Linked DNA regions of Homo sapiens. The protein of the gene in region 2 interacts with the protein of the main gene of each other region in a biochemical or structural test. Each region holds a gene or a part of one and is shown on either strand. Other genes may lie near its edges.

The links.
Region 1: the proteins of TMEM215 (region 2) and FRMPD1 interact in a test that uses a peptide from one of them, tested with the Homo sapiens proteins (one large-scale study listed by IntAct).
Region 3: the proteins of TMEM215 (region 2) and DLG5 interact in a test that uses a peptide from one of them, tested with the Homo sapiens proteins (one large-scale study listed by IntAct).
Region 4: the proteins of TMEM215 (region 2) and PATJ interact in a test that uses a peptide from one of them, tested with the Homo sapiens proteins (one large-scale study listed by IntAct).
Region 5: the proteins of TMEM215 (region 2) and PDLIM1 interact in a test that uses a peptide from one of them, tested with the Homo sapiens proteins (one large-scale study listed by IntAct).
Region 6: the proteins of TMEM215 (region 2) and PALS2 interact in a test that uses a peptide from one of them, tested with the Homo sapiens proteins (one large-scale study listed by IntAct).
Region 7: the proteins of TMEM215 (region 2) and HTRA3 interact in a test that uses a peptide from one of them, tested with the Homo sapiens proteins (one large-scale study listed by IntAct).

What each region holds. Positions count from the first base shown.
Region 1 is NC_000009.12:37,657,454-37,660,953, reverse strand, and holds part of FRMPD1 (FERM and PDZ domain-containing protein 1), read right to left. Parts: intron 1-3,500. UniProt on the Homo sapiens protein: Stabilizes membrane-bound GPSM1, and thereby promotes its interaction with GNAI1.
Region 2 is NC_000009.12:32,782,171-32,786,339, reverse strand, and holds the start of TMEM215 (transmembrane protein 215), read right to left. Parts: upstream 2,801-4,169; 5' UTR 2,535-2,800; intron 2,215-2,534; 5' UTR 2,157-2,214; coding exon 1,449-2,156; 3' UTR 1-1,448.
Region 3 is NC_000010.11:77,822,256-77,825,755, reverse strand, and holds part of DLG5 (disks large homolog 5), read left to right. Parts: intron 1-1,279; coding exon 1,280-1,372; intron 1,373-3,500. UniProt on the Homo sapiens protein: Acts as a regulator of the Hippo signaling pathway.
Region 4 is NC_000001.11:62,119,980-62,123,479, reverse strand, and holds part of PATJ (inaD-like protein), read right to left. Parts: intron 2,300-3,500; coding exon 2,185-2,299; intron 460-2,184; coding exon 422-459; intron 1-421.
Region 5 is NC_000010.11:95,288,204-95,292,393, forward strand, and holds the start of PDLIM1 (PDZ and LIM domain protein 1), read right to left. Parts: upstream 2,801-4,190; 5' UTR 2,713-2,800; coding exon 2,617-2,712; intron 1-2,616. UniProt on the Homo sapiens protein: Cytoskeletal protein that may act as an adapter that brings other proteins (like kinases) to the cytoskeleton. Involved in assembly, disassembly and directioning of stress fibers in fibroblasts.
Region 6 is NC_000007.14:24,579,952-24,583,451, reverse strand, and holds part of PALS2 (protein PALS2), read right to left. Parts: intron 1-3,500.
Region 7 is NC_000004.12:8,290,254-8,293,753, reverse strand, and holds part of HTRA3 (serine protease HTRA3 isoform 1 precursor), read right to left. Parts: intron 2,385-3,500; coding exon 2,190-2,384; intron 1,434-2,189; coding exon 1,401-1,433; intron 1-1,400. UniProt on the Homo sapiens protein: Serine protease that cleaves beta-casein/CSN2 as well as several extracellular matrix (ECM) proteoglycans such as decorin/DCN, biglycan/BGN and fibronectin/FN1.

The DNA.
Region 1 (3,500 bases), 4.9 Mb from region 2:
TAGAGACCAATGAAGGCAGCTGGGAGCCAGATGCAGCTAAGGAAGTAGTCATAGCCATGCATTCATTCATTTCATCGGTCAACACTGTACCCCCCAGGCCTCCTTCTGGGCTCCGTACTGAATGAGCAGCAAGGCTCGGTCCCTGCCCAGGAAGCTCACAGTCAAGTGGGGAAGGTTACACAGCAACACCCCATGACCACACTGTCTGGGGAGTATTGCCTTGCAGAAATGAAAGTGCAGGAGGGAAGGCTCCCAAAGTCTGGAAAAGATATCCCAGATAAAGCATCATATTTTGATGTGGGGATATTTTGAAGTGGCTATACCAAACAAGCCTTGTCAAAATGGAAAATCACTGTTCTTTAAACCCATTGTTTAAACCTACTTTAAAATCACTGTTCTTTAAGAGAAATGAGAAGCGGAGGTCTCTAAGCAGTGCAGTCTGAATATCTTCCTTACTAGATGGTCCTTAAGGTCCCTGTAAGACCTGAGCTTCTTCCAGTGCAGCTCCATCGGATGATGACCAGGAAGGGGGCCACCTGAGGTCAACTTTGGATACACTGTTCTATCCATCTTTCTCTTCTTTATCTCCTAGTCACCCACTAGGGCTCGGTTCAAATGCCAGTCCCTCCCAGAAGCCCTCCTAGATCTCCCTGCAAGGCATGGCCAGCCCTTGCTAGGCTCCCAAGGGTCTCTGCAAAGCACAGCACCCTGCCCAGCACTGACTTACTTCCAGCCGCAGGTGGGGCAGGGACTGTCTGATTCATCTCTCTCCTCCCTCCCCGCCTCTCCTCCCCAGCCCCTATCCCCACACAGGCCTTTCTTAGCAAAGCACATTGAAATGAGTGCAGCAGCCATCTAGGAGGATGCCGTCGGACAGGAATCCTGGGGGCAGCAATGAGTGGAGAGTCTGGAGCTGCTCAGTGTCCAGAACTTCCCAGGCCACTACCCTCCCCCTGCTTTCTCTCAGCTCCACTACTAGCTTCACCAGACGCAGCTCTTCTGCTTGCCCCTCAGTTTTGTTTTTTTTTTTTTTTTTTTAGTGCTTGAAAAGTCAACTGCAAACAAAGCAGCGCACTCTCTTTGTGGAGAAAAGCACATTTTAGTGGGAGTTGCATTTGGAGAGCCCAGAAGCCAGCAGCAGACTGGAGATCACACTTAAAGGACCATGGAACTTCTGAAACAGGCTAGTTGTAGGGCAAGAAGATGATACTACTATGCCCTTACAGGGTTGTCAAGGAGCATTTCCTGATTTTTTACAGAGTATTTGGGCACTGAGAATATAATTTCCCTCAAATTCAGTGAGCCAATCTCAGTCTAAATTAGTGGGAAAATGTGAAGACATAAGTCTTCCACTATGTGTCCCTTCTTTGTCCAGAGCACATTCACTGTGGGATCTTCCCTACGTCTGAGAACCGGCAATGAATATTTTAATAGCCACAGCTTCTCCTTCCCACTGACAAAACCTCCACTGGACTCGCCATAGCATGCTGGTGGAAATGAGGGTATGCACCAGAAAGACCTGAGCTTTCTCCTAGGCAGCCTAATCCCTGAGGGCCCCACCCACATCTGTACAACAGGAGTGATAGGAACAGCCCCGGCACCCTTCAGAGCAGCAGCCAGGATGCTGAAGGAAGGAGGAGACAGAAGACATGTGGCCTGAGGATCTGAGGCCAGTGACCCTGGAGAGCTGGGTTCAAATACAATAGAAACAAAAGGGAGTTGCAAAAGTAGAGAAAGTAGAGAGCCAATGGCTGAATGGCGGCCACCCTAAAAAGATATCCAAGTCTTGGCTGGATGTAGTAGCTCACACCCGTCATCCCAGCACTTTGGGAGGCTGGGACAGGAGGACTGCTTAAGCTCAGGAGTTTGAGATCAGTCTGAGCAACATAGCAAGGCCTCATCTCTACTAAAAATAAAATTTAAAAATTAGCCAGTTGGTGTGCGCCTATAGTCCCAGCAATTTAGAAGGCTGAGGTGGGAGGATCACTTGAGCCCAGGAGATCAGCACTGCAGTGAGCTTGATCATGCCACTGCACTCCAGCCTGGGTGACAGAGCCAAACCCAGTCTCAAAAATAAATAAATAAATAAATAATTCCAAGTCCCAATCCCAGGAACCTGTAAATGTGATCTTATTTGGAAAAAGGATTTTTACACCTATAATTAAATTAATGATCTTTAGATGACGTGCTTATCCTTGGATTATCCAGATGGACCCTAAATCTCAGGACAAGTGTCCTTATAAGAGTGAAACAAAGATTTGAAACAGACAGGAGGAGGCAACGTGACCAGGGAGGCAGAGACTGGAGTGATGCAGCCACAAGTCAAGAAATGCCAGTGGGCACCAGAAGCTGGAAGTGACAAAGGAAGGATTCCCCTTAGAGACTCCAGTGGGACAGCAGCACTACCAACATCTCGATTTTGTACTTCTGGCCTCCAGAACTGTTCAAGGACACAGTTCTGCTGTTTTAAGCCAAGATTGAGGTGATTTGTTACAGCATTTACAGGAAAAAATACAGCACCTAAGAAGTAGTCAGACAGATGAGGGATCTGAGTCCCAGAGAGGGGGCTCACTCACCCGACCCCACGTCAACCACTGGGCCAGGACACTCGGGTCTCTCTGACGCCAAAGTGCATGCAGTTCCGTAGTGGCCCAGTGCACAGCTCAGAAGGGGGACCCACCGGGACCTAACTGGCCTCAGGCTGTGCTAACGCAAATATAGATTCCGAAGTGAGGCTGCAGTGGGCTTGCTCCTGTCTGGGCTGATCAGACCCCCACCTGCACAGCGGTGTCCCATTCTTAGCTTTTCAGGGGGCCAGATAAAGTGGGCATTCTGCCTAAAGAAGTGAAGATGTGGGGGCCTGATCCCTGTCTTTGAAGGTCCAAGTGGCCTAACTAGCTGTCATAGGGAAGAAGAAATGGATTTTTTGTGTGTGGGGCTTCAAAGGACAGGATCGGGCCAATGGGGCAACCATTGCCGAGAGGAAGATTTTTGGCTTGGAATAATGAAGAACTTTGTAATAACCAGAGCCAACTGAGGATGGAATAGGAAGGTGGTGGGGGTTGGTAGGTCCAAGCAGAGGGAGGCTGGGTATGCTAGGGGAATTCCTGCACCACACAAAGGCTGTACTTGATCATCTCCGGAGCTGGCAGTCTTGTTTGAGGGTCTATGCTGGTAGCTAAAATATCTGGAAACATATGTGTGAATCTAGGTTTTCAGCACATAAACAAGGCACACTCTCACTAAGACACTTATTACGCAGTTTTTGCAAAGAGCTAAGTACTGAAAATAACCAGGAATGAGCTTGAGAAAGAGACCGTCTATTCTTCCATCTCCTATACATAAAATGTCCCTCACCCCAGGGAGAAAGAAAGAGGCCAAGTATGTATCTCCACAGAGACATCATCTTCTAACCAGACCAGGAACTAACAGCACATTCACAGGTACCAGGGGAGCCCTGGACAGTCTGGAGTGGTGTCTTTTTCCAGGGAAAGCCAGAG
Region 2 (4,169 bases):
ATTGAAATACACAAAACATATATGCCCAAATTTTTGTCCTCAATTCCCCTTTTGGGAGAAAGTGACTAAGACTATATGATCACTTAAAATGATCATTCTTTGAAGGATACAAAATACTTCTGATCTTCAAGATGAACTCTATCACCATTCCTATATATAATTCATATTTTTCTTCACCGGGGATCAAATGGCATTCTGCTTGATAGCCTTCTTATCTATTGCAGTTGAGCAAGTGAAATAGAAAGCACATTTTAGGATATCATTGTGATTTGTTGTTTTCCTCAGCAGCAAAAATGTATGAAATAAAGAGACTTTTATCATGTAATGTTCACTGATCAGGTGAGCTTAATAAAATCTAGGCTTCAGTTAAATTTAGTAGATGAGTTCTTGTTTCACTGGCATTTACAGTCTGTGAGAGGAGTTGAACAAATGTACAAATAATGACACTTCCAAAGGTTTAACCATTGCATTTCATACAAATTATGTGCAATGTTCAAGGCTAATGTGTAGACTTTATAGTTTTCAGATTTTAAAAGGTATGTAGGAATGGTAATTATCAGTACATGTCTGCCAATGTTAAAGACTTGGATATATATGTAAAATTCATTTTGTCTTGATGAAAACAAATTCCAATCTATGAAAGTATCATTTCAAATAATGTTGCACCTGGTAAGGAAATAATACATGAATGATAGTAAATGTTTAGAAAAAACCCATTTCAGATAAAGATGCAATAAATGGATTTAAACGAAGAGTTTAAGAAGTAACATAGCCATCTAAAAATGTTAACTTTTCACATAGCTGCTCACACTTATTTTACTTTATTAGAGACCATGATCTTGTCAGACAATAATGCCACAAGACTCAGTTACATAATCCAACTCTCTTTAACTACCCTTTTCCCAAAAACCATCCCATCTAAGGAGGGTTTAACTCTTGTATCTTGATTTTTTTTTCTTTCAGCAAATACCAAGTGTGATAAGCTTTTAACCAGGCAAAAATTACTTTATATAACGGATCATTAATTTTATTTTCAACTTATTCAAACATAAAGCAGCTCAGTTTCCCTGTGGTCAGCTCATGCATCATTTGATGCCTCACATCTGCAGCCCACTCTAGATTTATCTTGCTCTCAGCTGGTTCTGGATAGCACTTTTTGGGTTATTTTACAAAACATTTAACATTGTGTAAATTGTTAAGAAGCAACTGGAGTAGCTTCCTTTCCTACCCACTGCCTCTTCCAGTGTCCTTAACCCTCATCGCCCTTCCCTAAAATGTGTCCCCAACATGCCTATTTACATGACTCTCGGGTACCAGAGGTTATCACACCCATCACATACCAGGTCAATTTCTAACAGTGTGAAGGCTCTCCAAGCAGAGCAATTTGCTTCCACGGGGAGCTGGGCTTAGTCATATTCTATCAATCCAGCCACCTTTGTAGGCAGAGATTAGACGATGGTCTCGTGGTCCCACCTGCCTTGTATCTGATTGATATAACAACAGTATCTGTCATACGGGCTGTTCTGCTTGTAGGAGCAAACGATGATACTGTCCTGGGGCACAAAGAAGATGCTATCCTCAGGCTCAGGGCACTCAGATCTGTCCCTTGCTGAGCACTTGACGTCCAAGGCACTGTAGGTGAGGGAACTGCCCGAGGGGCAGTAGCCGTCCAGGTATCTGGACGTCTCCTCCTGATGCCCATTCTGGACGAGGCTCTGGCATTCTCCTTCCTCCGTGGGTGTGGGGCTGTTGATGGAGCTGGCCACGGACACCTCACCCTGGCTTTGTGGGGGAGGCTTCCCCCTGAGGCCCGCCTTCTTAGCCAGCTCATCTGAGCTCCCCTTGCCGGATTCTAGGTCTGAAGGGGTCCTCAGCAGCTCTACCACCTCCTTGTCTTTGGGTTTCCGGAAGCAGGGCAATTTGCGGACCCACAGCAGCTCGTTCTCTGGCCACTTGGTGCATCCCTCGGTTTTCCTGGCCAGGGCAATGGCTGCGATGCCTGGTAGGCAGATGGCTGGCCCGATGGCCAGGAGGGGGATGTTTCCCAAAGTCTCCCCTTTCATCCCAGAGACGGTGAACATGAAACCAAAGACGAGGAAGACACTGACCAGGGCCACCACCAGCCCAGTCCTCGGGTTAATGTCATCAGGCCGCATGTTTCACTCCATCCAGGTTGGGGGCTGCTTGCTGACCAGGGAGCAGCGTTCCTCTATTCTGTCAGAGATGAAACCACAGTGCGTTAAAAAAAAATCCAAGTCAAGCTCCCACCCATCAACTCTTGTCTTTCTCTTGCCCTTTGTCTCCGACTTGCTTCTTGACTTTCAGTCTTGATCTCTGTCTCTGTATCTCTCTTGCAATCTCTCTATCTCTCTCTCTGCGTTTCTCTTGCAATCTCTCCCTGTTTCTATTTCTACTCTTTCTCTCCGTCCCCTCTCCCTCCCTCCCTTTCTTGTGCCCTCCCTCTCTTCCTCTCACTATTGCAACCTCCGTCTCTCTCTCATATCAACACGCTCCGGCTGGGGTCAACGAGGTACCTGAGGTTTCCTGCCCTCTCCAGGAAGTAGGGAAAGAAGCCAGGCTGTCTCCTCAGAAGCCCCCACAGCAGCTGCCCCCTCGGCTCGCTCCCTTGGTTCTGGGAGGAAAGCCTGGTTTCCCCCACGGACTCTGCATCGGGGAGGTGGAACCTGGGAGAGCGGCTCTCCCAGCAGTGCCCGTCGGTCCCGGTGCTGTGCAAGCGGAGCCCGGCGCCAGCTCAGCGCGCAGAGCGCGGGGCGCGGGAGGAGGAGGGAGCACTGAGTCTGGGAAAGAGGGGACGCGGCGCGAGCCTGGCCTTGTTACATCACTGTCAGAGCAGGCTCAGAAACGCAGACAGACGCGCGGGGGCGCGAGGGGGTCAGCCCCAGAGGGAGGCCACCCGGCGGCAGGCGCTGCCCGGGGTCTCGTCGGGGCTGCTGGGAGCGGCCGGGGTTTGTGCCGCCGCCGTTCCGGAGGCTGAGCAGGGCGACCTGACCCGCTTCCGTGCCCGGGAAGGGTCTGGGGCGCGAGGCTGCCAGTGGCCGGAGTCGGAAACCAGGGTCGGTTTGCCCACGGGGCAGCCGTTGCAATATCCGAGCTCGGGCTCCCAGTCCGGGATCCGAGGAGTTAGGTGCCAGCTGGAGATGTCCCTCCGGGACCCGCACCCTTCTCCAGTTACAAATCCGGGTGACTGACGGCAGGCCCAGGGGCTCCCCGACCGCCCTTCTCTCAACCCCTCGACTCGGGGCGCGGGGGGGTGTGTGTCCCTCGGGGAGCCGGTGCCCGAGGACTGCTTTGGTCCCGGCTCTGGGCGGTGGCGGCGCGCGAAAGCGCTCTTGCAGCGGAGCGACTGCGCCGCGGGAGCGCACAGAACCAGCGCCCAGGCGGAGTGGGTTAGTGGTGAGGGGTGGGTGCCAGGCTAGTCCGGGCCTTGGGGGAGTCCCCGGAGTCCCCGTGGCTTTCCAGCTCCAGGCTCGGGAGAGGGTGACCTTGGAGCCGGGATTTCACTTCTACAGCGCTGTGGTGCCGGGGGGACAGGGAGAAGGGCTCCCTGGCCCCCAGTTCACGAGGAGAAGGGGCCTTGACCGGTCAGGACCACCACCCTACGACGCCGCTCAGCTCTGGGCGATTCTCTCCTCCCTTGCTGAAGCAGGCATTGAGAGCCTGCGTTCCTCCCGCTCTGGTAGGCAGGGGCAGATGGATTCCTCTGGCCCCGGGGGGCAAGACTGGCTTTGGCTGTGATTCTTCAACAGGGCTGCCCATTTAGGATAGAGGAGGGCGGTGGAGAACAGGTTGATGAGCGGTACATGCTTTCATGTCAAGACACTGATTTACTGGAAAGAATTTTCACATCCAGGCCTTCCCCAGTTAAACTAGCTGTATATTCCTGGGCAAGTGACTTAACCTCTCTGAGAATCAGTCGTCCTATCTGTAAAATGAGATTAATACCAAATATATGAGGAAACATTGTGAGGATTAAATAAACGTAAAGTTCCTAGCACAATGCTTGGTACATAGTCTGTGTACAAAAATTACACACACATGCACACACGTACACATGTATATGTATATATATTTGTCATCATAATTAGTGTCTTCATCATGTATGACAGGAGCCAAACAAATCATAAAGGCTGTGAGACTAAGGACTTTTT
Region 3 (3,500 bases), on a different chromosome or scaffold from region 2:
ATGAAACCCCATCTCTACTAAAATACAAAAATATTAGCCGGGCATGGAGGCATACATCTGTAATCCCAGCTACTCGGGAGACTGAGATAGGAGAATTGCTTGAACCTGGGAGGCGGAGGTTGCAGCGAGCCGAGATCATGCCTCTGCACTTCAGCCTGAGGGACAGAGCGAGACTCCATCTCAAAAAAAAAAAAGAAAACTTGACTTTGAAATGATTATAGATTCATAGGAAGCTGCAGAGATAGTACAGGGGGGTCCTATGTACTCTTCTCCCTGCTTCCCCTCATGGTTGCACCTTGCATGAGTATAATATCAAAGCTAGCATATTGACATTGGTACTGTGTGTGTGTGTGTGTGTGTGTGTGTGTGTGTGTGTGTGTGGTTGTGTGTGGTTAAACACATGTTGTTCTGTGTAACCACCACCGTAATGAAGATACGTAGCTGTTCTATCAGCACTGAGGTCTCCCTCCCACTGCCCATTTGTAGTAACACCCCCTGCTCCCTCCCATCCCTGCCCCCTGGCAGCTGATTTTTTCTCCATCTCTGTGATGTTGTCCTTTTGAGAATGTTACAGACATGGAATCATATAGTATGTGACCTTTGGAGCTGGGCTGTTTTGATTCCGCACCATGCCTGCAAGATCCACCCAAGAGGCTGCGTGTGCTGGCTGCTTGTTACTTATCGTTGCTGAGCAGTGTTCTGCAATGTGGGTGTATCACAGTTTGGTCATTCACCGGTTGCACATATACTTCTTAAGAAGGTCTGCACATAGCTGTGAGCAGAGATTCCGGGAGCAGGGTTGAGAGGTTCTTTGTGAACACTCACAGGGCCCCACTTCGCGTGGTACTTTCTCTACAAGGCCTTTCCTATCCATGGTCTTGTTTTTAGTCCCCCGCTCTCCCGAGCCACATGCATGTATTTATCTTCCATTTCCTCTGTGGAGGCAAGGAGCTGGGAAGTTCTGAGCCAAGGTCCCACGCCACATGGCCGGGCACAGCAGTGCCAAGATGTTCCCTCCGGGTCCTCGGTGTTCTGATCCCAGAAGGACATGCTCCTCCCCTAGCCTGCTGTGAAGGCTTATGTGTTCCTCTACCTCAGAATCCCCTTAGTTGGACTCCTTGGGCCTCACCAGAAAGACCTCTATCCTTTGCCAACTCCTGACTTTGGCACCTTGCATTTGGTGACTGTCTAGCACAGGAGGTTAGGTAGGCAGAGATCCTGACTGGTAGGCCTGAGGCCGCTCTGCCTGTGGCCTGACATGCTCTCTGTCCTGCTCTAGATCAATGGCATTGCACTGGACAACAAGTCTCTGAATGAATGTGAATCTCTGCTGCGCAGCTGCCAGGACTCCCTGACCCTGTCCCTCCTGAAGGTAAGGGCTGGACCTGGCTCTGCTCTCACGGTCAGGAGTATGGGCAGAGCCCCGGCTCCACATAGCCATGCTACTCCTTGGGGTCACAGGATCCTTGAGAACAGGGTGGGCATTTACTGAGTGCAGAGGGGGCAGGAACCCTGACTGGACGCTGGTCTGAAATCAAAAAACAGCAGTCAAGGCCATGTTGGGCACAGTTGGGTACATTTGAATCTGGACCCGATAATTAGATGATCTTAGGGAATTGTTGCCAGTTTTCCTAGGTATGATGATGGCATTGGGGTTGTTATACAGGAGAATGGCTTTATTTGGGGGAGGTACAAGCTAAAGTTGTTAGAAGTGATGTGTCATGGCCGGGCATGGTTGCTCATGCCTGTAACCCCAACACTTTGGGAGGCCAAGGCAGTCGAATCACTTGAGCCCAGCAACACAGCGAGACCTTGCCTCTACAGAAAATACAAAAAGCCTGGGAGGTCGAGGTGGCAGTGAGTTGTGATTGTGCCACTGCACTCCAGCCTGGGTGACAAAGTGAGACCCTATCTCAAAAATGAAAGGAAGAAGCTGGGTGCAATGGCTCATGCCTGTAATCCCAGCACTTTGGGAGGCGGGTGGATCACCTGAGGTCGGGAGTTCGAGACCAGCCTTGACCAACATGGAGAAACCCCGTCTCTACTAAAAATACAAAAATAGCCGGATGTGATGGTGCATTCCTGTAATCCCAGCTACTCAGGAGACTGAGGCAGGAGAATCGCTTGAACCCAGGAGGCGGAGGTTGCAGTGAGCTGAGATCACGCCTTTGCACTCCAGCCTGGGCAATAAGAGCGAACCTCTGTCTCAAAAAAAAAAAAAAAAAGGAAGGGAAGTGACATGTCATGATATTTGTAACTTGCTTTCCAGTGTTCTGTAGTATCATTATAGACAAAAAGACAATTTAGTGAAATATTTTTGAATCTAGATGGTACATTTATGGACATTTATTATACTTTTCTACATATTTGAAAAGTTTAATAATAGGAAGTTAGAAAAAATAGGCCGAATTTAGAAAACATCTCTTAATGAAATGGCTGGGCCTATTTTTTCTAACTTTCTATTAAGAGATGTTTTCTAAATTAACTATTTTCAAATTATTTGACTTTTTTGGAAGCAGTTTTATGTTTACAGAAAAGTTGGGCTGATACAGAATTCTTAGCACTCTCTCAACCACCCCATCACCACCATCCCCACTCCTGTCCCCAAGTTTCCCCAATTTTGGCATTTTGCGTTAGTGTAGTTAGTACATGCGTTATAATTAGTGAGCCAATGTGGATGCATTAGTATTAACTATAATGCATAGTTTACATTAAGGTTCAGTCTTGGTGTATTTTCTGTGAGTTTTGATGCAGGTGATGACATGTACTACCATTGTAATATCATACAGAGTAGTTTCACTGCTCTAAAAATTCCCTATGCTCCCCATATTTATGCAAGCCCCTGGCAACAACTGATCCTTTTACTGCCTCCATGCTTTTGTGTTTTCCAGAATGCCATAGAGTTGGAATCACAGAGTGTATAGAATGGCTTCTTCATTTGCTAATATACACTTAAGGTTCCTGCACGTTGTTTCAGTTCTTTTTAGTGCTAATTTATATTCCGTTGTCTGGGTGTACCACAAGAGATATATTTTTAACAATGAATTTTTACTTTTATGTTTAATATTTAAAAAAAATATTCAAGACATTATGCAGGTAATTTCCTTCTTTTTGAGACAGAGTCTCATTGTGTCGCCCAGACTGGAGTGCAGTGGCGTGATCTTAGTTCACTGCAACCTCCACCTCCGGGTTCAAGCGATTCTCCTGCCTCAGCCTCCCAAGTAGCTGGGACTACAGGTGCATGCCACCGTGCCTGGCTTATTTTTGTAATTTTTGTATAGATGGGGTTTCACCATATCGGTCAGGCTGGTCTCGAACTCCTGACCTCGTGACCCGCCTGCCTCAGCCTACCAAAGCGCTGGGATTACAGGCATGAGCCACTGTGCCCGGCCCAGATAATTTCAGAAAGTGTTCAAAGTTAAGAAAACTTTGACTCTTCTTTGAGTTCAGAGTGACCAGAGCCATGAGAAAACTTATCCATTAGGGAGAAGCATATGTGT
Region 4 (3,500 bases), on a different chromosome or scaffold from region 2:
AAAAAAAAAAGAAACTTATAGCACATTCATAAGATGGAGTACTATGAAATCGATAAAAATCATACTATATGCTCTCAAAAAATACTTATTTAGTATGTGCCACATGATACCATTTTTGTTTTATAAAACTTTACATGTACAGGTTAAAAGACTAAGATTGAAAAAATAAATAAATAAAAATAAAACTTACACATAGCACAGAATATAGTGGATGAGATTTGCCAAAAAATTCATAGAGGTCATCTCTGTGCTCTACTGTACTTTTCTAAGTCTATTTATTGATGTTATTTAGACCATATTTTTATCTCAGTAACTTGAAAGAGCACACTCACAATCCAATAAACTGTATTGGGGAAAATGTACATTTAGTGCAAATCCAACACAAACCAGAAAAATACATACAGCAAAATGACTGACTTACCCTGTTTATCTCAACAGTCCTTGGTTCCATATCTGTGCCTATAAAGAAGCAACACAATTAACTTTTTAATATTAAAAAATAATATATTTAGCATATAATATTGCCCCATGAAAAATGGTTTCATTTTCTAGGTCTTTCAAGAGAAGACACTAAAGCAAGCAGGTATTGTACCCTTCCTCAGCATCCAAGCTGGTAGCCAAGTCACCAGGGGCCATGTCCTCTTTTTTTTTTTTTTGACACAGAGTCTCGCTTTGTCACCCAGGCTGGAGTGCAGTGGCACCATCTCAGCTCACTGCAACCTCTGCCTCCCAGATTCAAGCAATTCTTCTGCCTCTGCCTCCAAATAGCTGGGATTACAGGTGCCTGCCACCACGCCCGGCTAATTTTTGTATTTTTAGTAGAGACGGGGTTTCACCATGTTGGCCAGGCTGGTCTCAAACTCTCGACCTCAAGTGATCCACCTGCCTCGGCCTCCCAAAGTGTTGGGATTACAGGCGTGAGCCACCGTGCCCGGCCTGCTGTGTCCTCTATTTTAAAGAAGTGCTCTCTGTTTGAGATCAATGTGGCCATAACCATTTGGTCTGACAAAAGTGGATGGGCTATATAGCAGCAGCTGCCTGGAACATGGTGAGTAAATGCTTGGAGGATGACTCATTTTTGTGTGTGTGTGTGGTTTTTTTTTTTTTTTTTTTTTTAGATGGAGTCTCACTCTGTCGCCCAGGCTGGAGTGCAGTGGTCCGATCTTAGCTCACTGCCATCTCTGCCTCTTGGGTTCAAGCGATTCTCCTGCCTCAGCCTCCCAAGTAGCTGGGATTATAGGCATGTGCCACCATGCCCGGCTAATTTTTGTATTTTTAGTACAGGCGAGGTTTCTCCATGTTGGCCAGGCTGCTCTCAAACTCCTGACCTCAGGTGATCCGCCTGCCTTGGCCTCCCAAAGTGCTAAGATTACAGGCATGAGCCACCGGGCCCGGCTGAGTCATTTGTGTTTCATTGTACATTTTTTTCTACCTTAATCAAAGATAACCCTCCATTCAACAAAAGACTTAAAAGGACCCCTTGTCCCACCCTGCCCCCAAGGATATACACACTTTTTTTTTTCTTTTAACTGGCCCAATTTTCCCATAGAAGGTATACACACTTCTGACCTTTCTCCAGTGACCTGTAATTTATTAATTTTCTCTTTGTAAGTAATTTTATTTTACCATGCACTCCAGCTTTCTGCTTTTCTGTTTTTCAGGTGCTTTGTGTTGTGCCACTGAAGGAATTTCTTTTTTTTTTTCTGGAGACGGAGTCTTGCTCTGTCACCCAGGCTGGAGTGCAGTGGCACGATCTTGGCTCACTGCAACCTCCACCACCCCCGCCAGTTTCAAGCAATTCTCCTGCCTCAGCCTCCTGAGTAGCTGGGACTACAGGCGTATGCCACCACGCCCGGCTAATTTTTTTTTGTATTTTAATAGAGACGGGGTTTCACGGGGTTAGCCAGGATGGTCTCGATCTCCTGACCTCAGGTGATCCGCCCGCCACAGCCGTCCCAAAGTGCTGGGATTACAGGTGTGAGCCACCATGCCTGGCCACCACTGAAGGAATCTCTATGGCTTTCCTACCTTCAGAACATGCCTTTCAGAAAGCTCAGCTTATGTGGCCAAGCTCAAAAAATTAAAAAACATTTATATTAAAGAAGACTGGTTTTTAAAAAACACATTTTTTTTTTTTAATTTGGGTAACAGGATAGTTTTGCTCTGGGTGTGTCCGTGTAATACCTGAATTTTTCTGGGAAGGATCTGAAACTCTTTTTGTGCCAACCAGGTTTTGCAGGCCAGTGATGACAGGAGCGAAGGAGGGATGACAGCTGCTGTGTGCACTCTGCTGACTACCCTGAAAGAAAGACCCAGGGGTCACCTGTGTGCAGACACTGACTTGACCCCCTAAATGCATACTTATCCATTAGTGTGCCAATTACTGATGTCACCATAACCATCTAACAGAAAATCGTGAGGAGGCCAGGAAAGAAAACAAAAATCACCCACACTATTCTCTTACTACCTCAACCCAATCCCATTTAGACATTTCCTCCATTGCTTTCTCCATTATGTGTGCTTTTGTATATGGTTTCAATCACCAAGGTGGAGACCATAGAATCATTTCAGCTGTTCTTGCTCCACATAAAATCAAAACCATTTTCCTAGGTTGCCACATAGTGTTTATGTATATATAGTCAGCTAATGGGCACTATGTTTCATTTGGGGTTACAGTCAACTTTATTACCCAAAATGTATTATGTATTTTGCTAAAACAAGTATAATAAGACCTTGATTAGCAGAAACCTGCCAAAATAGAACCCTCAATTGTGGGGAAAAAAGCACCAAATCTGAAGGGAAAAAGACTTGTTTTAGGGATATATAACATTTTTTTCTCAAAGATTTTCCTAGAATCAGTAATAATTTAGTCCAATCTGCTAGATCTCCATTACCTGTCCCTTTATTCATTTAAATGAATATGTGAGGTTAATACTGTGTAGTCTTTTAAGGCTAGTGGCTGTTCAACAAAAACTGTATACATAGTGAAGGGCCTTTCTTATGTAGACGAAAACATTGCAAATAATGAATATTTTTTTCTACCAAATTATTCTGCATCAAAATTTTAAGCTAAGCCTAAGATCACTGTTATCAGTTCATAAATTATAATTTGGTCCATTTTCTTAACTCTATGATGAAAGTTGTTTAATATTTTAATTCCTAAAATATGAAAACCTTCAAATATATAGAAAAGCTGAAAGAATTATACAATAGACATCCATATAAATAGCACCTAGATTTCACAATGAGTATTTTGCTATATTTCCTTTATCACATAGCCATTTATCTATTCATCACTCATCTTTTTTTAAAAAATTCATTTCAAAGTAAGTTGTAGATCTCAGTATACTTCATAGTGGCTATATACATTTAAAGGAGTGTTTTTATACTTTTCCTTAAAGGATATGATTTAAGTAAATGGTACTATAATAGATAACTAATCAGAACTGAGGAAGTACAGTATATTATAACTTTTGCCTTTAAAAAATTTCAGAAAGGTG
Region 5 (4,190 bases), on a different chromosome or scaffold from region 2:
CAAGTACATAAGATTAGCATTATATTAAGAAGCTTTAGCAGTTTAGCAAAAGACTGGAGCCAATACCACAATAATTCATGCAAGAGAAAGCAAACATGGTTATTTAAATAAAAGGCACTCCTCTCCCAGCCTAATTTTATGGTTTGCTTTGGTGTGGAGACTCAAAGTCTATCATATACAAAACTATACCAGCAAATTGCCCAGGATGATAAATAATGTAGCATACCTACCAATCAGAAAGTGTGTACAGCTCTTTGTCAGTGCTCACATTTCCTCACTATCACTATTTACGGAGCACTCTCACATACCTTAACTCACAGCCAAGGGCTGGTGCTATCCCCACTGCAGAGGTTTTTTTTTTTAAGTAGCCTCAGACAGTGGAAGATTCACCCCAGGTACAGCTCAAGCAAGAAGACACTGGACCAGCACCAGATCTCAGATGGCCACACCAGGGTCCCTTTATGACAATGACTTTCCCATTCCCATGAGGTGAACAGGCTCACAATTTTTCCATGTATTAATAAGGAGCTGAAGAGAAACAAATAAATTACTGTCAGCATGAAAATGTTACCTCTTCTGAGTCACTTCCACTTTTCAATTAAAGCACCTGCCAAGGGCATTATAAAGATTAGTTTCCATCACTAGACCATGAACACCTTGAGAATGGAGCTGTGCCCTCTCATTTCTGAGGCGTTTGCACAGTTTCTGGAATATGATACGTGCTCATTAAACACGTGCACACGCCATAAATAAATAATATAAATAATAAATGAGTGAATATATGAAGGTAAAAACCAATGAATTCACAGTGTGGTGTTTTCCACCCCATTCCATCATTCACTCATGCATTAAGACTTTTAAAAGCAGCTAAAGTGAAAGGCAGTAACTGCCCTTTTAACAGATTGCCAATACATCCTCCACTACTTAAAAAAGGGTTTCATGTCATATATAAATCTCAGAAGTGGAGAGGGCTGACAGGTTAATTATAGACACAAAGAACAGGGACAAATGGACTATGAGGTAAGCGAGTTGAAATGTGCAGACACAATGTCCTCCCTGGACAAGCATTTATTAATAAGCCTGCAAGGATTTACCCAGCCCGGCCAGGTACAGGTCTGCTACCAGGCTCGGGGACGATTCTGGGGAAGGCACAGTTCCTGCGCTTGAGGAATTAGGCTGGTGGCTGGAAAGGCAGTGTGTACCTTTGAGAATAATCAGAGGTCTCTGTGGGACGAGGCAAACAGGTGGAAGATAAGGCCCAAAAACTGGCCCGCCTACTCTTTTAGGGGGGTGAGATAGAGAAGACCTCCTCACTGGGCCAGGCCAACCGGGAAAGAAGCATGGGTAGGACTGTGGCTGGCAGACAAGTCAAGAGGAGGCCACCAATTCTTCTCCTGCACCTCCCACCAAACTCCTTCAGCTGCTGGACGCAGGAGCTTGAGTCAAAAGGATCCATAAGGATATTTCCCTTTCTTCTCCACCCTTCCCCCAACCCCAAGTGAAAAAGAAGGATGTTTAGAAAGTCTGGGAGACAAGCTGAAGGGCAGCTTCAGCAGGCAGATGAGCCCAAGAATGGAATGTGCCGCCTACAGGCAAGGAGTGGCCATGGGTGGGGAGAAAGGGGACTTCTTTTTCTCCCTTTCCTCATTCGAGGTACTTACTGAGTCTCTTCTTGGTGCCCAAGCACTGAACGTGACATCTCTTAGTGGGACATCAACCTGTGTTTGGCCAGATTAAATGGCCAAAGCCCAGACCTCTGAACACTGAGTCTGGGTCTCCCTGGGGGTTTCACTTTATTAGGGGGGCAATGGTTCTGGTGGCCCCTGATTCAACGTGAGTCCTTCTAAAGATCCGAAGCCCCTCTTAGATTTCAAGCACCTCAACCCCACCCCAGGTGGACACCCCATCGCAGTATCTACTCATGCCCTGAGAAAAAAGGGCTGGTGCGGGGAGGGGAAAGAGATAATCTGGGAATGCTAGGAAGAATGACGGCGGGGCCACGTTCTGCAGAGGGGAGAATGACCAAGAGGGTTTACTTGAGTTTGTTTGTTGTGTTTATTTCCCGAATCCAGCACATTCTCCAAAAGCCATTCGAGGGGCGAGCCTCGGCCGTGGGTCAAGTCCAAAGAGCGTGTTTCGGTTGTTTTTTTAGGTTAATCCCACTTGCCCCCCACCCCAGTAAACTTCCCACCCACCCCACCTCACTTTCCAGGTCTTTCCTGTTGCGTTCGGCTGCACTGCGATCTGGGAAGAAGGGAGAAGTGCCATCTCCCAGCGCGCGGGATCTGCGGGGACCCTCGTCCCCTCGCTGGTTGACAAAGAACTAACACCCGCCCCGCCGCGCTTCCGGGGCCAAAGAACGAAAACTGCCTTCTTTTTTTCTGGCGGACACGGAGCGCGCCCGCGGCGGGCCGACCAGCCCGGGAGCGCAGCCTCCGCGAAGGGGCGGCGGGGAGCGGCGGGGCCCGGGCGCGCGGAGAGCGCTCAACTAACAGCGCACCTGGACGCGCCCGGCTGCGGTTCCGACTCCGTCCCCGACCGCGCCCGCGGGGCCCCAGTCTCCGCATATCACCTCCCATAGCGCCCCGCTTCCACGCACGTCCCAGCTGCTCTTACCCGGGAAATGGCGAGAGGCTGCTCGAAGTCCTTGCCGCCCACGAGGCGGAAGCCCCACGGCCCCGGGCCCTGGAGGTCTATCTGCTGGGTGGTCATGGCGCGGCTGTGGCGGGCGACGACCCGCGGGGACAGACGGGCAGGACGCGCGGAACAGCTTGCAGGGCACCCCCGGCGGCTGTCGGAGAAAGAGCGGCGCGGCGCGGGCCCGGGGAGCCTGGGGCTGGCGGGGGCAGGGCAACCGCGAGGGCCAGGGCGGGGGCGGCTCCGCCCAGGCCGCGTAGCCGCCCGCCGCCCCGCCCGTCCTCCCGCCCGCAGCCGCTCCCCGCCCTGCGCGCCGGCCTGGGGGCCCTGGCCCGGAGTCCCGCCGAGAGAGCGCGAGTCAGATGCGGGGCCGGGGCTCTCAGCAGCTCTGCCCGGGACCCCACACCGCCTCCCTCCCTCCTGTACGCACGGCCGCACCGCGGCTCTCGGGCCCGGGGCGGGTGCTAGGTGAGAGGGAAGCAGGTCCTGACAGCGAGACAAACTCGCGCCTCGTGCTTTGTAAAACGAGAAATTTGAAGTGCTGTGCCAAGTCAGCCCTCTGAGGTCGGCTCCGACTTCCCATTTGCTTTTTGTAATCGGTAATGATGTTTAAAAGGTGCTTTCGAACGATCTCATTTGATGCTGAGGCAACCGGGACGTTTAGTCCCATTTTACAGATGAAGTAACTGAGTCTGCTCAGTAGGTGAGAAGACTTGCCCGACGCTACACCACTCGTCAGCATCTGGACCACTGCCCGGGCCCAGTGCTGCAGAACCCCATCCTGGAACTTTTATAATGCTAATGAGACCATCACTCAGGTTATAACTGAACTTCAAGGCCTTCCTAGAAATCTTTCCTCCAGGCTGGAGTTCATGGTAGGTTCTGACCTCAACAGTTCAAACCTCAAGTTTGGGGCGGGCCAAGGGCCAAGTCAATGCAAAAGAAGAGCTGAGTCCGGGACCTGGATTCCCAGCCTCCCACCAGCTTCCTAGCCAGGCTCCCCCTGACGCCCTCCCGGTGGAGTGCATTCTCCACGCCGGACCAGACCATTTCTCATGCTGTCCATGGCGTCCCCACCTCACCACCAGTGAAAACCCAGATCCTTACAATGCCTACAAGGCCACCCCTAGAATGGCCCCAACTCCCTCTCTGACCCCAACTCCTCCTGCCCTTTCCTCACCTGCCCCCCAGTCTGCCAGGCTGTGCTCCTTGCTCCTAACTCAGGGCCTTGCCTCAGGGCCCTGTCTGCAATGCTGTTCTCCCAGACATCCCCACCACTCTCTGTCATTTTCTAGGGGCCGGACACGTGGCTCACGCCTGGAATCCCGGCACTTTGGGAGGCTGAGTCAGGAGGATCAGTTGAGCCCAGGAATTCTAGACCAGCCCCAGCAACACGGCAAGACCCTGTCTCTACAAAAAAATTTAAAAAAATAAAAATTAACCAGGTTTGGTGGGGCACACCTGTCCCAGCTTCTAGGGAGACTGAGGTGGGAGGATGGCTTGAGCCGGAGAGGTCAAGGCTGCAGTGAGCTGTGGTCGTGCAACTGTACTCC
Region 6 (3,500 bases), on a different chromosome or scaffold from region 2:
CTAACATTTTAATTGGGTGAATAGTAAAACTTTATAAAGATCATTAAATTCCTTCACGGAAAATTTCTCTACCTAGTTGTTTTCAAGAGCTTAATGCTAAGGATTGGTTGGTGATGGCAAACTGAGACTACTTTGTCTCACAAGATAGTCCAACCTTTTAAAAATAGGGCTTACATTTTTTTTTACTGACCTCCATTCCAAAAGATTACTAGCTAAAAAATAAAAAACATTTAAATTGATTTGTATAAAAATATGAATGATTTCCAGGCACGGTGGCTCACGCTTGTAATCCCAGCACTTTGGGAGGCCAAGGCAGGCAGATCACGAGGTCAGGAGTTCAGGACCATCCTGGCCAACATGGTGAAACCCTCTCTACTAAAAATACAAAAATTAGCTGGGCGTGGTGGCACACATCTGTAATCCCAGCCACTCAGGAAGCTGAGGCAGGAGAATCACTTGAATCCGGGAGGCAGAGGTTGCAGTGAGCCGAGATCACGCCACTGCACTCTAGCAGCCTGGGTGACAGAGCAAGACTCTGTCTCAAAAAAAAAAAAAAAAAAAAAAAAAAGCATGACTATCATTTCAAAAATAAGCAACTTTAATAAATTAAACTTCTTTACTCAATTATCTGAGTTTCTTATATCAAAGCTCTTTATAAGAAACCCAATTATTGGAGTTTCTTATACCTTCTAGCTCCTTATACAAGGATAGAAGATAGAAGGATATTAAAAGAGGAATAAAAAAAGCAAATAATTTTTTATTTATGTAACTAAAGTTAGGTTTTCCATATAACATTTTATTATGTGCATATAGACATACATATTCTAGTAAATAAAAAGAAGACAAATCCACTCAAAGATAGCCACATTCAAACTTCAAATAATATTTATTACAGTTAATGAAAAAAAAATCAATGTTTCTTTTAGAAAAGTAACGCAAGCACTAAGCTGGTAATACCAATAAAGTATTTATAGTAATATTCTATAGATTATTTATAAACTCTGCCATTACAGAACTAAAACAAAATGTTCTGAAACATTCAAGAATTTGTAAACAACTGACATTAGCCCTCACCATATCACCAGATTGGATGCTGTTCAAATGAGCTGCGACTAGAATTAGTATTCCCAATTCCTTAGCAAGCCATTATTACAAAATAGGATTTCATTTTCTTTATATGCATCATATGCTGTATTTGATACAAGATGATGGGAGTTATATTCTTTATATGAAAATCAGTTGATGCTTTGGGAAGACCCCAAAAAAGCAAGTGACAAAACAACAAAACAAAATGATAAACTGCTGTAAAATTAAGGGTAAAACAAGTATAAACAATTGAGGAGTCATAAAACATTAGAAATCTAGATCTTATATGCAGACTGCTTCACAAACTTTTAAGTTCTCACTCCAAAGCTGGTAATCAGTGATAATGCATTGGCTTATATAAGAATGATGACCCAGAGTTCCTGGCAAAAGACACATACTTAAAGAAAAGACTGACACATGAATGTAGATTTTTAAGTAATATATTATTTAAGATATGTGTCAATCGTTTATGACTCTTCACTTAAATCACTTTCAGTCAGCCAAAACTACCACCCGTTCTGATCAAATCAGATTAAAGGCTTTTACTCGTAATAGAGGCATCAAAATTTTTTCTGGATACCCCAAAAAAGCTATTGGCAATAGTTGCCTTTAGAATAACGTTTCTCGGCTTCATCACTACTGACATTTTGGGCTGGATGACTCCTTGTTGAGGGGGGCTGCCCTGTGCACTGTTTGCAGCATCCCTGACCTATACCTTATACATAGTAGTAGCAACACCTTCCCAGTTGTGACAGCCAAATATTCCTGGAGATTGTTCAGCAAAATCATCCCTGATTGAGAAATACTGACTTAGAAAGTGATGAAGATGGGACAAAAAGACTTATCAACTCCTCCTCCCTTTTCTGAACTATTTAAATTACCATTATGGTAGGCTGAATAATAGTCTCCCCCTCCACAAGATATCTATGTCTTAATTCCTGACACCTATGAATGTCACCGCATTTGGAAAGTTTCACAGGTGTGATTAAAGATCTTGTGATGGGGAGGTTATTCCAGAGAGCACTAAATGCCTTCACAAGTGTCCTTCACAGAGGGAGATTTCCCTTTCTCTCTGACACACACACACACACACACACACACACACACACACACACACACACGTGGGGAAATGAAAGACACAGAGCTGAAAGATTTCAAATGCCAGCCTTGAAGACTGCAGTGTGTAGCCGCAAGCCAAGGAATGCCAGAAGCCACCAGAAACTGGAAAAGGCAACAAGTAAGTTCTCCCTTAGATTCTTTGGAGGAAAAATGTCCCTGTTGACACCTTGATTTTGGCCCAATTATACTGATTTCAAATGTCTGGCCTTCAGAATCGTAAGAGAATACATTTATTTATAAGCCACTAAGTCTGTGGCAATTTGTCACAGCAGTCACAGAAAACTAATACAATCATAAAAAGATTTTAGTGACTTAAAAAACATAATTTTAAAATCTGCAACAAGCAGATGAGATAATGTGTGGAGAGCATTTAACATAGACCTTGAAACATGGTGGTATCTATAATATTATCAAATGTTTACATCAGCATTAACTATGACTAAACGCCAACCTCTTGATAGCAAGAAGAAAAAACAAGGAAGCTCAACTAGTAAAACTGGGTATATTTGTTCAAGGCTCATGTGAACGAAAACACATAAATCATCTACTCATGTGATGAGTGTACTTGCCAGTTGTATAAGCACTGTGTTATAATTTGTTCTGTACTGAAAAGATAAATTATGGATGAGGCCACCTAATGATGGCTTCCTTGGAGAACCATGCCTGAATATTCATTAGTAGAAAAGAAACAAGAAGGCAGAGGAGGGAAGAGTATGCAAGAGAGTAAAGCAATGGGGATCAATGAGGTATGTGCAGAAGTATTGACCTGGTGAGAGACCAAGTTCCAGCATTAGAGTTACCTAAATTATATACAACCTCAAAAGCTTTGTTGAATGATTTCATTATTAAAATGGAATATTCCACAGGATGTATTATTTTACACTCAAATGGTGGCTCCTGGGGATTTTAACAATATAAACATGCTCCTGCCCCATACCAGACCTACTAAATTAGAATCCTTTAGCGTAGGATAGCTCCAAAGGATTCTGATGCCCACTTAGGTAAAGAATCCCTGCCAGAGTCACTTCATGGTAAAAATGACCTACAGAACAAAATATAAAGTATTTATCCTTGAAATATGCATTTAAGTAAATCAGCTTAGTATTTTCCTAAGTTAAAACTTCTCCCAACATGTACCCCTCTGAGTTCCACCACAGAATTTCTCTAAACGAATCCCTCACCTTTCACTTTTCCTTTCCTAAGCATATGGCCCCCAGTCTGCTCAGAGAATCATTTTCCCCACACTTTCTCATACATTTTTCTTTAAAAGTCCCACATATCTCCAGCTGCCCTAT
Region 7 (3,500 bases), on a different chromosome or scaffold from region 2:
AGAGGGAGGAACATGGTAAGGCCTGTCGGGGACAGAGACCCTGTCTATCCCTACCTTCCAGAAGTGGGGGGCTGGCAGGTGGGACCAGGGGAGCTCCTTGACCCCCCCATCCCTCTCTTTGGAGACCCTCCAAACCTGCCCTGCCCCCCATGAGGCTGGTACCACTTGGGCAGGATCTGACCTGGCCCCTGGGGACCTCACACTCAGGCACACTCCTGGAAAGGAGCCCCACCCCACAGCCTGGCTTATACCCCTAGCCCTGCCCTCCCTGTCAGGGCCTGGCCAGCTCACCAGGGATCCCTCTGGGGCCTGGGGCAGAGCTTTGGGTCAAGGCACCCTTTGTCCTCCTGGTCCCTGGAAGCTCAGGAGGCAGGAAGAGCATCCGAGTGTGAGATCCAGTAGATTGAGTTCTGTGTCCACCCTCGGCCCTCTGTGCCCATCTCTACTGCCTGGACCATGCGGAGCAGCCTCCTGGGCCTGGCTTTCTGGCCTCCAGCCTAAACCACACACACGAGCTTCCTTGAAACCAGGGCACGGCCTCAGCCCTGCCAAAAGCCTGGGAGACATCTTGGGCACATAGGGTGAAGCCCCATCTGCACACGAGGCCTGAGGCAGCAGGACATGGGCCACCAGCCCCTTTCATTGTCCCCTTGTCTGACCTCCCCCTCCCTAAGCCTCTGAGAGCCTCCTGCAATGCTCATGTTGTGCCTTCTCCCTGGGATTTCTTCTTCCTGTACCCAGTCCTCCTCAATCTCGATGGCTGTTGTATAATGCTCTCACCTCCAGGAAGCCCTCCCTGATCTCACATCAGCTGCCAGGTCTTCCTGCCCAGCGTCCCTCCAGAGCTATCTCATGTGGCTCACATGGTGCTTGGGCTTGTTCACATCTGGACACCTCCCCAGCCATGGATAGGAGCTTCAGGGGTGGGACCGTCCGATCCTTCAGGGCCTAGGAGCTCTGAACTGAGCTTCCTGGTTTATTCTGGAAAAATCTCACCTGGGATGAGGCTGAGCTTGACTTTGAGGCTCAAGACACAACTGGGAAGGGGAGAATGAGGGTGCCCCTGTCATCCTGTGTGTACATCCAGGGCAGGGAGGGCTGAGGTGAGCAGCCCCACACCTGCGTCTCCCTTGCCCCAGCTCCCCTGACAGGCACATGGCCCTGGACTGAGCTGCTGCTCATGGGTGAGTCCTCATTCCTGGTGGCCACTAGCATCCCCGAGGCGCTTGGGGCAGCCTTGGTCTTTCCTCCTTCCAGGCCTCCGGCCCAGCTGCACTCCCGACTGTTGGTGTAAATGTTCTAGGACCATATTGTGGGCCCTGTCCCACCTCAAGGCTGAGCACCCCCATGTGAGAAGAACCCCAGAAACCTGAGAGATTTTGGCTCTAGGGGACACTTACCAGGTTCACCAGTGGTCCCCCGGAGTTCCCGTACTGCAAGGGGAGGAAACAGCATTAGCTGTGCCTGACCCCGCCTGAGGCTTCCTGGAGCCCCTTCTCCAGATCTGCCTCTAACCAGTGCAGAGACACATAAGCAGGTCTCATCCTCAGCAGCATCGAAAGGCCTCAGTGCTGCCCCCATTTCACAGATAAGAAGGCCATGTGGATGGCTGCCTGATGACCGAGGTCTGACTGTCACTGTTCTCTGCACAAACCATACGCTTCGGCATCTACACCCCGGAGGCCAGGCAGCACCGCCTGGTGCATGGAGAATGGGGGTATTACTTCCCATCCTGCTGGCCTGGGGGGGCCCTCTACAAAGACTCGGATTCCAGCCAAGTGCCTGAGCTGCGGCAAAGCTGGATGGACGTGATCTGGGGCATCTGGGTGAAGTGCTTTGTGAATGCTAAACGTGCCACCAACATAATCACAATAATAATGAAAAGCAATGTTGGCCAGGGTGTGTAAGCTGGGCAAAGGTGTTTGCGGGCTGTGGCCATGCCTCTGTTTCTCTGAAAGGCTGCCCGAGCGAGGACAGCAGCCTCTGACTCCCAGCGTGCCTGGCACCCTGGGGTGGAAGTCACAGGGTTAGAGCTCCACCGAATGTAAAGAGAGAACTTTCTAGCAAGTGGATGTGTCGAGTGCCAGAATGGCTCTGGGGAGGGGGGCAAGCCGAGTCAGAGACCACCTCGAGGTTGAGGTCTTGGGCACAGATGGCAGGTGCCCCGGCCTCCTGTCCCTGGGACTCACGTTGATGATGGCATCCGTCTGGATGTAGTCCATGTCGGAGTCCCGGAGGCCCAGCTCCCTGCCCTCCCGCTGGGCAGTGCTGACGATGCCCGTTGTCACTGTGTTCTGTAGGGCGAAGGGACTGCCGATGGCCACCACAAACTCCCCAGGCCGCAGGTCGGCCGAGTGACCCAGCAACAACACAGGGAGCTTTTTCTAGGAGAGAGAAGGAGAAGACACAGAGAGGGAGGCTTAGCCGTCTACCTTCAGCGGGGACCGGAGTCAGATCCTGGCAGGGGGGTCCCAGGGAAGGCATGCACATCTGTGCAAAGCCACCAGGACTGTGAAGGCTCAGGCAGGTCACCAGTGCAGACCAAGACCAGGGCAGTCCTGTGCTGAGACCCAGGGCTGGAGTACACGGAACAGAGGCTCAGCTGTGCCAGGGACCAGAGGTTCCCCCAGGGCAGGCATGGGTGCTCATCATGTGCAGCTGAGCACAGCCTCCAAGGTCGTTGAGCCCAATGATCTGATGGTCACATGGCCTCTAAAAATCTGGTAAAAGCTGCAGACACCTGGTAAAAACTACTACACCATATGCACCACACACAAACTGATGCATTTGATGGAGAGAGATCTGCAGACAACTGGAGCCCAGCTAAGGACTCTGACATCCTTGATCCAGTTCCATCTCATCTCCCAGTAGAGACACACGGGGGAACTCAGGCCTGGAGAAGTGAAGCCACTAGCCGAGCTCCACCCCACGCCGCGCACACTGAGACACCTGCACACCCCTCTTCTGCTTTTGCGCGGGCCCAGCGGAGCCTGTCTGTCTGATTATCTGACTCTGCAACTAGCCTGGCAGCAAGGAGAACAGCCAAGCTCTGTGTTCCAGAAGCTGCGTGGTGCACACTCTGAGAAGGTAATCCCGGGTGCTTGTTAGAAGGTGCCGAAGCGCACACACACACACGATAAATTGGGGAAGGCGGTTCTGTGCTCGTACCCACATCAACTTCCTGGTTCTGGTTTTGCACCCATTACCTAAGATGTCACCGTTGAGGGAAGCTGGCGGAAAGTCTCCTGGGACCTTGTGGCACTACCCTGTAGCTTCCCGTGGATCTGCGATCGGCCAGGTCTCAAGAGCATTGCCCCAACTTAGGAGATCAGTGGGGCAGGACCCCATGCCTCTGACCCTCTGGATGGCTCCCCTCCACCAGGCCACTGGTCCTTCTCATCGTTTCAGTCCTCTTCCCTTTTATTATACACCATCATGTCAAATAAGAAAGTTTCTCTTTGCAGCTTTCAATACGAGGAGAAAGCTGTCAATAATGGGGA